Linked DNA regions of Homo sapiens: region 2 is linked to region 1. Evidence: fine-mapped expression QTL. Tissue or cell type: whole blood. Region 1 holds a variant in brackets; the other region holds the start of a gene. All regions are shown on one strand. Distances are between the middles of the regions.

The links. PIP is the estimated chance that this variant, and not a neighbour inherited with it, causes the effect.
Region 2: CAB39L starts here. The variant in region 1 is fine-mapped to the expression of CAB39L in whole blood (INTERVAL, PIP above 0.99).

What each region holds. Positions count from the first base shown.
Region 1 is chr13:49,466,720-49,472,518 of GRCh38, reverse strand. It overlaps SETDB2-PHF11 (SETDB2-PHF11 readthrough), which reads right to left. Exons shown (of 21, transcript NR_135324.2): 5 at 4,559-4,655. SETDB2 (SET domain bifurcated histone lysine methyltransferase 2) reads right to left here. Exons shown (of 14, transcript NM_001160308.3): 5 at 4,559-4,655. Among named protein-coding and RNA genes, the nearest start is that of SETDB2-PHF11, 25 kb to the right of the region's middle. The variant T/C (reference allele first, on the strand shown) is at 2,835.
Region 2 is chr13:49,440,368-49,446,166 of GRCh38, reverse strand. It overlaps CAB39L (calcium binding protein 39 like), which reads left to right and starts at 2,103. Exons shown (of 11, transcript NM_001079670.3): 1 at 2,103-2,181. It overlaps SETDB2-PHF11 (SETDB2-PHF11 readthrough), which reads right to left and starts at 1,893. Exons shown (of 21, transcript NR_135324.2): 1 at 1,310-1,893. SETDB2 (SET domain bifurcated histone lysine methyltransferase 2) reads right to left here and starts at 1,893. Exons shown (of 14, transcript NM_001160308.3): 1 at 1,310-1,893. RefSeq lists enhancers at 740-1,513, 2,196-2,275, 1,514-2,286, 2,656-2,725 and silencers at 1,986-2,035, 1,707-2,187.

The DNA.
Region 1 (5,799 bases):
AGAGGTAAACACAGGATAAGGAGTAAGTAGTGAGAAGGAGAAGTCCACGGCTGTCTGGACCTGCTTGCCAGCCTCTGGGTAAGGATTTCTCAGTTTGCATATGATTTGACAATTGTTCAGGGTGTTGTTAGTCACTCTGAACATCAAAGTGGAGCATGGCTTAGAGGCTGCCAACTGATTATCTAGCTTTTGGCAAGGCTAAAGTAAGAAGTCATTCTATCCTCTATGACCATTAAGGGGGCATATTTTAAAACAAGAATGTATACTGTATTCATCTAAAGACTGCAGTAGGTAAATCTGGTATTTTGCTCAGTCCCTTCTTTAGTCATCCTCTTCTGAAAGGCAGGTATATTAATTTCAGTGTACTCAAAGATGTTGGGTCTTGTATACATACTGGGCTTTTTATACTGTCTCTTTCAATAATTTAAATTAAGATATTAAAAAAAATGGTTGGGTGCGGTGGCTCATGCCTGTAATCCCAGCACTGTGGCAGGCCGAGGTGGGAGGATTCATTGAGCCCAGGAGATCAAGATCAGCCTGGGCAACATGACTAGACCCTGTCTCTATTTAAAAAAAAAAAAAAATATATATATATATATATATATGTCACATGAGATAACACTTGCACTAGAAGGTTAGAGTTTAGCTGGGGCAGCTATGTTTGGTCATGTGGGAAGAGAAGAAACCTACTGGTAACAGAGAGAAGTAGAGTTGAGACTGTGTCAACCCTGACCTTAGGTATTGACTTTTAAGTTCCTATTTTAGTGTTTACATGGCCTGCTGTGTTACATTTTCTGTTCTTCAAGACCTATTTTATTTATATATGTGTGTATGTATGTGTAGGTACATGTGTGTGCATGTTTTTAAAAATAATCTTTTGGGTTTGTGTGCATGTCATGTAAAAAGCCATAAAAATTTAATGGCTTAAATTTACACCTGTGTCTTTAAGCAGTGGTGCAAGCCCAGTGTCACCCAGTATGCTAACCAAAGCTGCACACCTCGTACACTTCTAATAAATTCCACTACTTAAGCTAGCTTGAATAGGTATGTACTCCTGACAAACCAAAGTTTATACTTGACCAAAAAAAAAAAAAAAAAGGGAATTCAGACTTCTAAAATCACAAAAGTAAATATCCTTTTAAAAGAATTATCACTGAAGTAATACTTTTGTTTTTACATTTACCTATGTCATAACTCACTTATGTGGAGTAGAAATTCAGTTCAACTCAAGAATAGAATACTGGCTGGGTGTGGTGGCTCATGCCTGTAATCCCAGCACTTTGGGAAGCTGAGGAGGGAGGACTGCTTGAGACTAGGAGTTCACGACCTGCCTGGGCAACATAGTGAGACCACATCGCTACAAAAAAAAAAAATGTTAAAAATTAGCCAGGTGTGGTGGTATGCACCTGTAGTCCTAGCTACTTGAGAGTCTGAGGAGGAAGGATCGCTTGAGCTTAGGGCGTCAAGCCTACAGTGAGCTGTGGCTATGTGCCACTGCAGTCCACCCAGCGAGACAGTGAGACCCTGCTGTCTCAAAAAAAAAAAAAAAAAAGAAAGAAAGAAAGAAAACAAAAAAACCCCACAAAAAAACACCAAAAGCCTGAAGCCTGTGTCCTATTAGACCCAAGATTTCATCCTGGGGTTTGCCGTTGATAGTTTGTATAATCTTTTTTTGAAATAGGGTCTCACTCTGTCACCCAAGCTAGAGTGCGGAGGCGCGATCATGGCTTGCTGCAGCCTTGATCTTCTGGACTTAGGTGATACACCTCAGCCTCCCAAGTAGCTGGGACCACAGGCATGTGCCACCAAGCCCGGCTAATTTTTGTTACTTTTTGTAGAGATGGGGTTTTGCCATGTTGCCCAGGCTAGTCTTGAAATTTTGGGCTCAAGTGATCCTCCTGCCTCAACCTCCCGAAGTGCTGGGATTACAGGTGTGAGCCACCATGCTCAGCCTAATCTTGAGCAGTTTAGCTGGGGCTAAGAATTCCTGGCTTAAGTTATTGAATGTTTAGTTTACTAGGCAACCTATGTGACCACTGGGCTGCTAAGAGGGTTTAAGTACTGAAAATAAAATAAGCAAATAAACTTCTGGCCTGCAGAGGAAATATAAAAGGAATTATTTAAACATAATTCCAGTCAAGAATGAAATGCTTCCTTGGAATTCTTAATGGCAAAGGAAGAAAATCCTAAGCCTAATAAGACATGTCCCTTCATCTGAAAAGATCTCAGAATGCTCAACTCAAAAGTTAGGTATAATCTCAAAAAAAGCCTCTGAGTGTCAACACAGTACAAGAGAGATGGGAGATTAAGGAAATGAAATTCTGATTATATAATCATAAACAGTCCTAAAGAGATGGGAAAACAGTTAAAGAAACCAACTCAATTTTTCTTGGAAGCTCGGATTTTTAAAAGTATACATACAAAAGAAGACAGCTAATTATGAATACGCAACATTGGTACGAAACTGTAAGAAAAGTATCACAAAGCCTAGTAAGAACCGAGGTTTCCAAAAGTGCTAATAAAATAACAACAACAAAAAACAACTAAAGCTATGCTTAGAACAAGAAAATAATCTGTTAGGAGAAAAATAAGGTTAACTGATAACAAAGAGAAGGAAGAGTTTCTCAAAAACAATTCTGCCTTTGTCTTTTCCATCTTTAAGTATGGCTCTCAAGTTGGAAACAAGAGGAAAAAAATAAAAAGAAACTGAAGTCTGTGACAGTTAAAGAGAGGGTACTAGAACTCAAGTTTATTTAAGCATATAGAAGACTCTACAAATTAAATCTCAAGGTCTGGAAAAAAAAACTTCAAATATAGAAAAATTAAAAATAAAA[T/C]AATACTGCCCTGATTTTTTCTTTGACCACTTATCCTCAAGTTCTAGCTGCCCTGATTTTTAAAAAGGGAAGGAGGACAGGCTACAGAAAATATAGAAAGGTTAGCTTAACACTGGTCTCTTAAAAATCTCTAGAAGAAGGCATCAAGGGTGTGGCTTCTAAATATTTTGAATTTAAAAGGCCAACCAACACTAGGTGCTGAGTTAACAAGTAGGTGAGAAAAATCCAAATTAACTGAATTTTCTTTTTTGACAACGTTTTCAATAAGTCTGAATAATGTCTGGCAATGCCACAGAATGCTATGGCAGTGAACCTTGATTTTTCATGACCACTTTGTAAGTGAGAAGTGTAGGCGGGACAACAGTAGAAGTAAATTCACAGTTGCTTAAAGCGTTCTTTCTGAAGCGTAATAAAAAGAATGTCTAGTAGTGAGCCAGCCACAAGGTTTTTATCTTTGGTCATGTCCTGTTCAATATTGTTTTCAGTGACCATAATGAAGATTAGAAAGCTTATTTATTTGTACAAGATGATAAGCTAAAAGGGACAAAAAATATTCCAAAATTCAAAAAGATTCTGATAAGCTGGTATAATGAACTTAAAGCAAAAAATGATACTTCACAGGAATAAACCACTCCTGCATTTAAGTTTAAAATATAATATCTAAATATATAGATAACTGTTTGGTAGAGAGCTTGTTTGGTGGTAATTTACATGAAAATTTAATTTAGATTTAGACTGAGTGAATTTGTTCCTAAAAACTTACAAAATTTTACACTGTATATTCAAAGGTCAGAATTTCTAGAAAAAAAAATGTTTTGTGAGCCACTGAAATGGCCAATTAAGGAGCTAAAGTGTGAACTTAGCTTTCTCTGTGAGCATTTTAAAGTAATTTTATGGGCCTTTTGAGACCCACTCAAACTGCAATGACATCTCTAATATTTGTAAATCCAAATTATATGAAACAGTGTCTATCTACAACTCTCACAGGCATGAAAATCAAAAAAATAATTATATAGTTTTTCTTAGTCAATTTAATATTAAGCTGAAAGAACAAATGAAATTAGGGTAACAAAGAAGTTTCTTTCTAAAGATACTTCTTTGTTTTTTGAAACTATGTTCTCTACTCTAGAGAACTTTCAGAAACTTCCCTGTAATTAGTACTTGAAGGGTTAGGCCCAGGTATTACCTACTAAAAATAAAGACTACGTGTCAGAGTATCTAGATTCACTCTTCCGCACATCTCCTTTATGCCAAAGAATCTTTATGGAAAGTAATGATAAAATGAGAAAGGGAAGGTCAGAAAAATTTAGTCTATTCCCATAAACTTTTAGACACTACTTAAGAGCTGTTACGCATTTTGAAAACTCAACTGATACTGAAAGAAACATTTTGACACTTTTAAATTCTCCAGATAATCTAAGCAGTAAAACAAAAAACAAAACAAAACAAAAACACACTACTTGGTAGATTTCAGTGTATTAATAAAATACACAAAGACATCTTAAGCTAAACTTTATAAAAAGACTTGATTAACTAGGAATATTCAATAACCTATTCAGAGACTCATGAAATTCTATCTTACATAAAATACTAAAATATACAACTTTTAAAGCTTTAATGGGAAAAATTTTTTTGTATATTTCATCTATTCTAATGTCAAGTGATTTATAAAGAAGAAATCTGTAGGAGCAAAAGCATTAATAACAAAGAATTTATATACATACAGAAATGTACAGTCTTCTGGAAAGGAGTTTTCACATGATGTAGAGGGAAATGCATTGGATTTGTTTTCCTGTTCCTTCTGAGTCACAGGCATAGGATCTACACAAAAAAATAATGTGAGCAACAAATATACCAAGTTAAAAACCATTTGCTATAAGTACCCAAGTAATATGTTCATTGACTAGAGTCTGCCCATATGGATCCCTAAAATTTGCAAACATAGTAAGGTTTCAAGATTGAGGCAAAAGATTAAGTGTCAATATTTTCAAAAATATGAATAAACTAGGATAAAATACTGAGGACAGAAAAGATTTCTACTGTAGAAACTCTAGTTTGGCCTGAACTTGATTTGAAGCTTAACCAATCTTTAAGGTGGACATTGAGTATCCCTACTTCTGCATGCATTTTATAGAGAAATCACATAATTCTTAAAGGCTCTATAAAAGTCAGAAAATGAAAAATTTATGTACCTTTTGTTTTCCTATTGCTCTACAACTATTTTAGGGAGGGGATGAAGTATCTGGGTATCTCTTTTGATCTAGTTGTTCACATTTCTTTTTTTTTGAGACAGAGTCTCATTCACTCTGTCGCCCAGGGTGGAGTGCAGTGGTATGATCTTGGCTCACTGCAACCTCTACCTCCTAGGTTCAAACGATTCTCCTGCCGCAGCCTCTCCAGTAGTTGGGATTACAGGCATGCAAAACCATGCTGGGCTAATTTTTGTAGTTTTAGTAGAGACAGGATTTTATGTTGGCCAGGCTGATCTCGAACTCCTGACCTCAAGTGATCCGTGCACCTGGGCCTCCCAAAGGGCTGGGATTACAGGTATGAGCCACCATGCCTGGCCCAGTATATTTATTTTCTAATAAAAAAATTATAACTTACTTTCCCCCTCAAAAGAAGTTTAATAAAAGGATATTGTATTTCAAGGTTGCTCCTTGGCTAACTGAAAAACAAATATCTGTCTTTAATTTTCCAAGTAAAGAAAGGTTTAAAATCTGATAGCTGAGCCAAGCACAAGGTTCATCCCTGTAATCCCATCACTTTGGAAGGATAAAGTGGGAAGATTACTTGAGGCCAGGAGTTTAAGGCCCCCCTGAGCAACAGAACAAGGCCCTGTCTCTACGACAGAAAAAAAAAAAAAAAAAAAAGTTAGCCAGGCATGGTGGCGCATGCCTGTAGTTCTAGCTATTTAGGAACTGAGGTGGAAACACTGCTTAAGCCCAGGAACCGTAGGCTGTAG
Region 2 (5,799 bases), 26 kb after region 1:
ATTCATTTTAAAGCTTTTTATAGCATATTGTCAAACTCTCTTCCAGAAAGGTTCTACCAATTTATACTTCCACCTAAGCACACTCAGTAATAGTTTTATTTTTTTTTAGACATGAGGTCTATGTTGCCCAGGTTGGTCTTGAACTCTGGGCTCAAGTGATCTGCCAAAGTGCTGGGATTATAGATGTGAGCCACCCACCGCGCACGGCCATAGATTTTTTTTTTTTTTTTGAGACGGAGTCTCGCTCTGTCACCAGTGCAGTGAGAAGGGTGCAGTGGCGTGATCTCGGCTCACTGCAGCCTCTGCCTCCCGGGTTCAAGCGATTCTCCTGCCTCAGCCTCCCGAGAAGCTGGGATTACAGGGGCCCGCCACCACACGCCCGGCTAATTTTTGTGTTTTTAGTGGAGACGGGGTTTCACCACGTTGGCCAGGCTGGTCTTGAACTCCTGACCTCAGGTGATCCGCCCGCCTCAGCCTCCCAAAGTGTGGGGATTACAGGTGTGAGCCACCGCGCCCGGCCCATAGCTTTGTTTTTAAGCAGCTCTCACCAGCGTTCACACCTGAAAATTTGAAAACTGAACGTGCACAAGTAAAACATGTTTCCTGGAGAAAATCTGCAAAATACAATAAAGCATAAAGGAGAAAATTTAAACACCATCCCATCATCCAGAGACAACTGGTGTTAATATTTCAGAGAGTAAATGGGCTTAAAAAACTTTTTTCCCCTTCTCACTTTTTCATTTTGGTAGAAAAATAATTAAGCCAGTCTGCTTTGCTTCAATGTATGGTTCCTTTTCGTTTCTAAAACAGGCTTTAAAAACACGTTTACCATTTCCTCTCGGCTCCTTACGTTTTAATTGTAACGACAGAACCACGGGTTAAGTCACGCTTAAGAACCACGGGTTAGTCACGCTTCTAACTACTTCACGTGTTCTTATTTAATCCCCCTAACAGTCATGTGGGTTAAATTAGCAGCTCGTTTGCTGATGAGGAAGCTAAGGAATGCCATACCGTAAGTGGCAGACACGAAATAAGGAACCAGGCAGCATGGTTTCAGAGCCTATGCTTTGGTTACTCCATTTGACCTCTTCAAATTTACTCCTCTCCTTGGCCTCATGTGTTAGTATTTACAGAGCTCACTGCAGGTTTCCACATGCCAAAGAGCACAGTTAATTACATATCTTTCCTTACTTAATTACTTATTGGGCTGTGGCTGATAGCGAGTCAGAAGTGTTACTATCTAATCTGAACTCCATGATCTTGGATGAATGACTGAACTTGCTGTATTTAAGGGCTCGTGTAATCTTACCTGTGAAATGGGCTAGTGGTTTAACCTTCAAGTTCTGCTTCTGGGTTTTATACTGCTGTCCATTTCCTGCCGCCCCTTTGACAACCTCAGGTTCCCAGCAGCTTAGGAATCACCTCTCATTAAGGCTGCACCCTGAGACAGACAGGCTGAAATGGAGGTTGGAAACTCAGTGCGCCCGCGGCCCCTTCTGCAGCCAGGACTGCACTTGGGTGCCAGGAGAAGGGAGGCTGCAAGGGCTGGGGTCCAGCCCCTGCTCGGGCGGCCGAGGGCTCCGCGGCGTTTTCAGCTCCTCCAACCTCCCGGCTAGAGGAACTGTCGGGGGCCAGCCACGGCGGTGCCTTGGTTTCACCTGGCTCCGCTGCGTTTTCTACGCCGCCCGCCTGACCTGAGGAGTGAGCTCCGCCAGCTCCGTTGGCAAGGCTGGGTTCCTCCGCGGGTGGGGCTCTCCTCCGACGCCAAGCCGCCCAAACCTCCCGAGCGCAGGTGCCCTCTGGCCGGGAAGTACTTCACCATTTACTAGCCTTCATCTCAACCACAACAGTCCCGCCCTGCCTCTACCGGGGATGAGGGAAGGCGTAACCTCCGCCGGGGACCAGGCCGACCTACCTAAACCGATCACTACATGGGAGGAGTCGGACGCCGGCCGTCCCACCACCCAGCCAGGAGCCCATTGATTGGTCGCACTCCCCACTGGTTCACGCCTCAGAGACTCGGCGCACTTACCGCTGGCACCGCAGTGGCGCCCGAGCGCGCCGCCTCCCGATTGACTGCTAGCGCTCTCGGCTTGTCTCGCGCACTGTAGCTGAGCCAATGGAGTTACTCGTAGTCGAGAGGCCGGCATCACTGGAGTGGTGGCGCAGCTGTTTCCTCCGGTAGGTGTGAGGCTGCCATCTTGTGTGTGGCTGGGACTGGGCTTCTTGGGGGTTGAAAACATACATAGCGCCTGGCCGTAGTGGAGGGGTCCGGAGAGAACAATGGGGTAAAGGAGAGGCCTAAGGGAGGAGACCCAGCGCCTTCCTACTTGCGGAAAGGATGGGTTTCCTGGGCCTGAGTCTCATCCCTGGCTAGAGAGAGCGAGGAATGGTGGTGGTGGTGGTGGTGATGGTTGTGGTGGTGGTAATAGTAGGGATCCCAGGTTTTGGTTTGTTGATCATTGTGGGGGCTGGGCGGGGCCTTTGATGCCTTAACATTGGTTCCTGGGAGCTCTTTTAGTAATTTTTGTCTCGCAAAGATTCTGACCATCAACCCCCTTTGACAAAGGAGGCTAGCTGATGAACTGCCTGATTGAGAAAGGAGCAAAGCTAGTAGTGGAAGGGGAGTGCCTCTCTACTATCCTCAGGTTCAGAAGAGACCTCCTCTTCCGTCCTTTTCGAGGGAGCGGCTGCTAAACAGTTTGCTCTTCGCGGGGGTTACTTTACTAAGGCCATCCTTTGGTAATAGTGGGCGTCAAGTTCTGCGTTTGGGCAAAATTGTACATTAGCGGGCAGCCAAGCATTCCTGCAGCTGTCTTTTTTTTTTCTTTATTTTAAGCTAGAAAGTGGTGGTCTTGCAGAAACGGGGCGTGAAGGAAGAATTTTGTCAAATCTTGATTTCCCCGATAACGATATGTTGAAGATTATAAATCTCTGGGTCTGCCATGACATGCTTGGTCACTTCATGGAGCAGGAGGAGGCTTTGTTAGGGAAAGCACCTTAATTTCTGAGCTCTTTTTGGGGTAGGAGGAAGAAGACAGGACTTAACCTTGTTTCCCTCCTCCTTTTTTTTTTTTTTTTTTAGCATTGTTGTGGATGGCATTGCATTGTCTTTCATTTGAGGGGAAAATGTATTGGATCTGAAGACCAAGCTGATGAAAGGCTAATATTTTGTGGTAGATTTTAGCAGTTTGACTTGCATGAAAAGAAAGCCGATGTATTATTGCCTTCAGCTTAGATTTCAGTTATTCAAGATTAACTGATGAACAACCTAATCAACAATACATGATAAAGACATCTCGCATCAGGAATACCAAAAAACAAAACAAACAGCAAAATAATTGATGTTTTTTTTTTTTTTTTTTTTTTTTTTTTTTTTGAGATGGAGTCTCTTGTCGCCTATGCTGGAGTGCAATGGTGCAATCTCGGCTCACTGCAACTCTGCCTCCGTGGTTCAAGCGATTCTCCTGCCTCAGCCTCCTGAGTAGCTGGGACTACAGACACCGGCCATCACGCCCAGCTAATTTTTGTATTTTTAGTAGAGATGGGGTTTCACCATGTTGGCCAGGCTGGTCTTGAACTCCTGACTTTAGATGATCTGCCCGCCTCCACCTCCCAAAGTGCTGGGATTACAGGTGTGAGCCACGGCACCTGGCCTGAGAATCATTTTTCTTAATTACTTGATTCCATGCTTGTATCTTCCACTTGACTTGTATCTTCCAGTTGGCTTGTCAAAATGCATGGAGAAACAAAAGTTCATATACCTTTTGACCTTTTCTAAGAAACTTGTAAGGAAATAGAGATAGAATCAAAGCTTTATAATCACAGTGTAATTTTGTTCTTGTGAAAAATTGGAAATAACAAATATCTAATGGTAGAAGAATGGTTTTATAAATTATGACACATCCCATCATTATATTTTTCAGCCTTTTAAAAGGAACGTTTTCAAAGAGTAGTGGCATAGGCTGTTGAATGACATAGGAAAGTGGTTACCATTTTGTGTTAAATGAAAGAAGTATAGAATAGTCATTGGGAAAATGCAAATTAAAACCACCGTCATTGGAAAAATGCAAATTAAAACCACAGTGAGATACTACACAACCTCTTACTCAGAATGTCAAAACAAACAATACATTTCCTGGCAAGGATGCAAAACAAGGAGAAACCTTAGTCTTGCTGGTGAGACTGCAAATAGTACAGCCACCTAGAAGACAATTTGACAGTTTATTATAAAATTAATCATATCCTTATCACATGATCTGGCAAGCCCACTCTAGATTGAAATTTACCACCAAGATAAGAGAGTTCCAGTAGTTTTTCATCCTTGTCAGCACTTGGCATTATCAGTTAAAATATTTAGCCTTTATATGAGGTATGATGGGGTATCTCATTGTGGTTTTAATTTCCCCTTTGATGATTGTATGCTTCTCTGATGAAAAGTGAAATGAAAACCTATATTGGCTGCTCTGCAAATATTTATAGCGATTTTATTTGTAATGGCCAAAACTGGAAACAACCAGATTCCACTAGGAAATAGATTTTTTTAAACTCCAGCATGTCCATACAGTGTAACATAGGAACCTCCTTTTTATTTTCTTTAGAGATGGGATCTCGCTATGTTGCCCAGGCTGGAATACAGTGGCATGATCACAGCTTACTGCAGCCTTGACCCCCCAGGCTCAAGTGAACCTCCCTCCTCAGCCTCAAGAGTAGCTGGGACTATAGATATGTGCCACCATGCCTGGCTAATTTTTTGGAGAGATGGCATCTTGCTATGTTGCCCAGGCTGGTCTCAAACTCCTGGACTCCAGTGATCCTCCTGCTTTGGCTTCCCGAAGTGCTAGCATTATAGGCATAAGCCACTGTACCTAGCCGGGAACCTCCTTTTAGTATATAGTTATATAAATATATGGGAAAAGGGAATATATATATATATATATATATACACTAAATCATTATAAGAAAATCATCAAAATAAGCCATAAAACATTGCACGAGATTATGAAAACATACCCCAAAAATGTGGCCACAAAGCAGATGAAAATGACAATCTAAATATTTCAGAGTAAGCTAAGAGAATTTAAGGAAAAGATGAAATCTTTGAAAGAACCACATAAATTCAGAAATAAGAGCTCAGACATGAGATACGTAGGAAGTTCTAGCCAGAGCAATCAGGCAAGAGAAACAAAAGGCATCCACATAGGAAAAGAAGTCAGACTATCTCTCTTGGCTGATGATCTGATTGTATACCTAGAAAACCCTAAAGACTCCACCAAAGGCTCTTGGAACTGATAACTTCAGTAAGTTTCAGGATACAAACTCTGTACAAAAATCAGTAGCGTTTCTATACCAATAATGTTGGAGCAGAGAGCCAAATCAAGAATGCAGTCCTGTTTACGATAGCCATACACACACACACACACACACACACACACACACACACACACACACTGCCTAGGAATACCTCTAACCAAGGAAGTGAAAGATCTCTACAAGAACTACAAGACACTGCTGAAAGAAATCATTGATGACACAAACAAATGGAAAAACACTCCATGCTCATGGATTGGAAGAATCAATATCATTAGAATCGCCATACTGCCCAAAACAAGCTACACATTCAGTGCTACTGAATGTGTAGCTTGTTTCAAATTATACTTTGAGGCTACAGTAACCAAAAAAGCATGGTACTGGTACAAAAACAGACATATAGGCCAATGGAGCAGAATAGAGAGCCCAGAAATTAAGCTGTACACCCACAGCCATCTGGTCAACAAAATTGACAAAAGGAAGCAATGG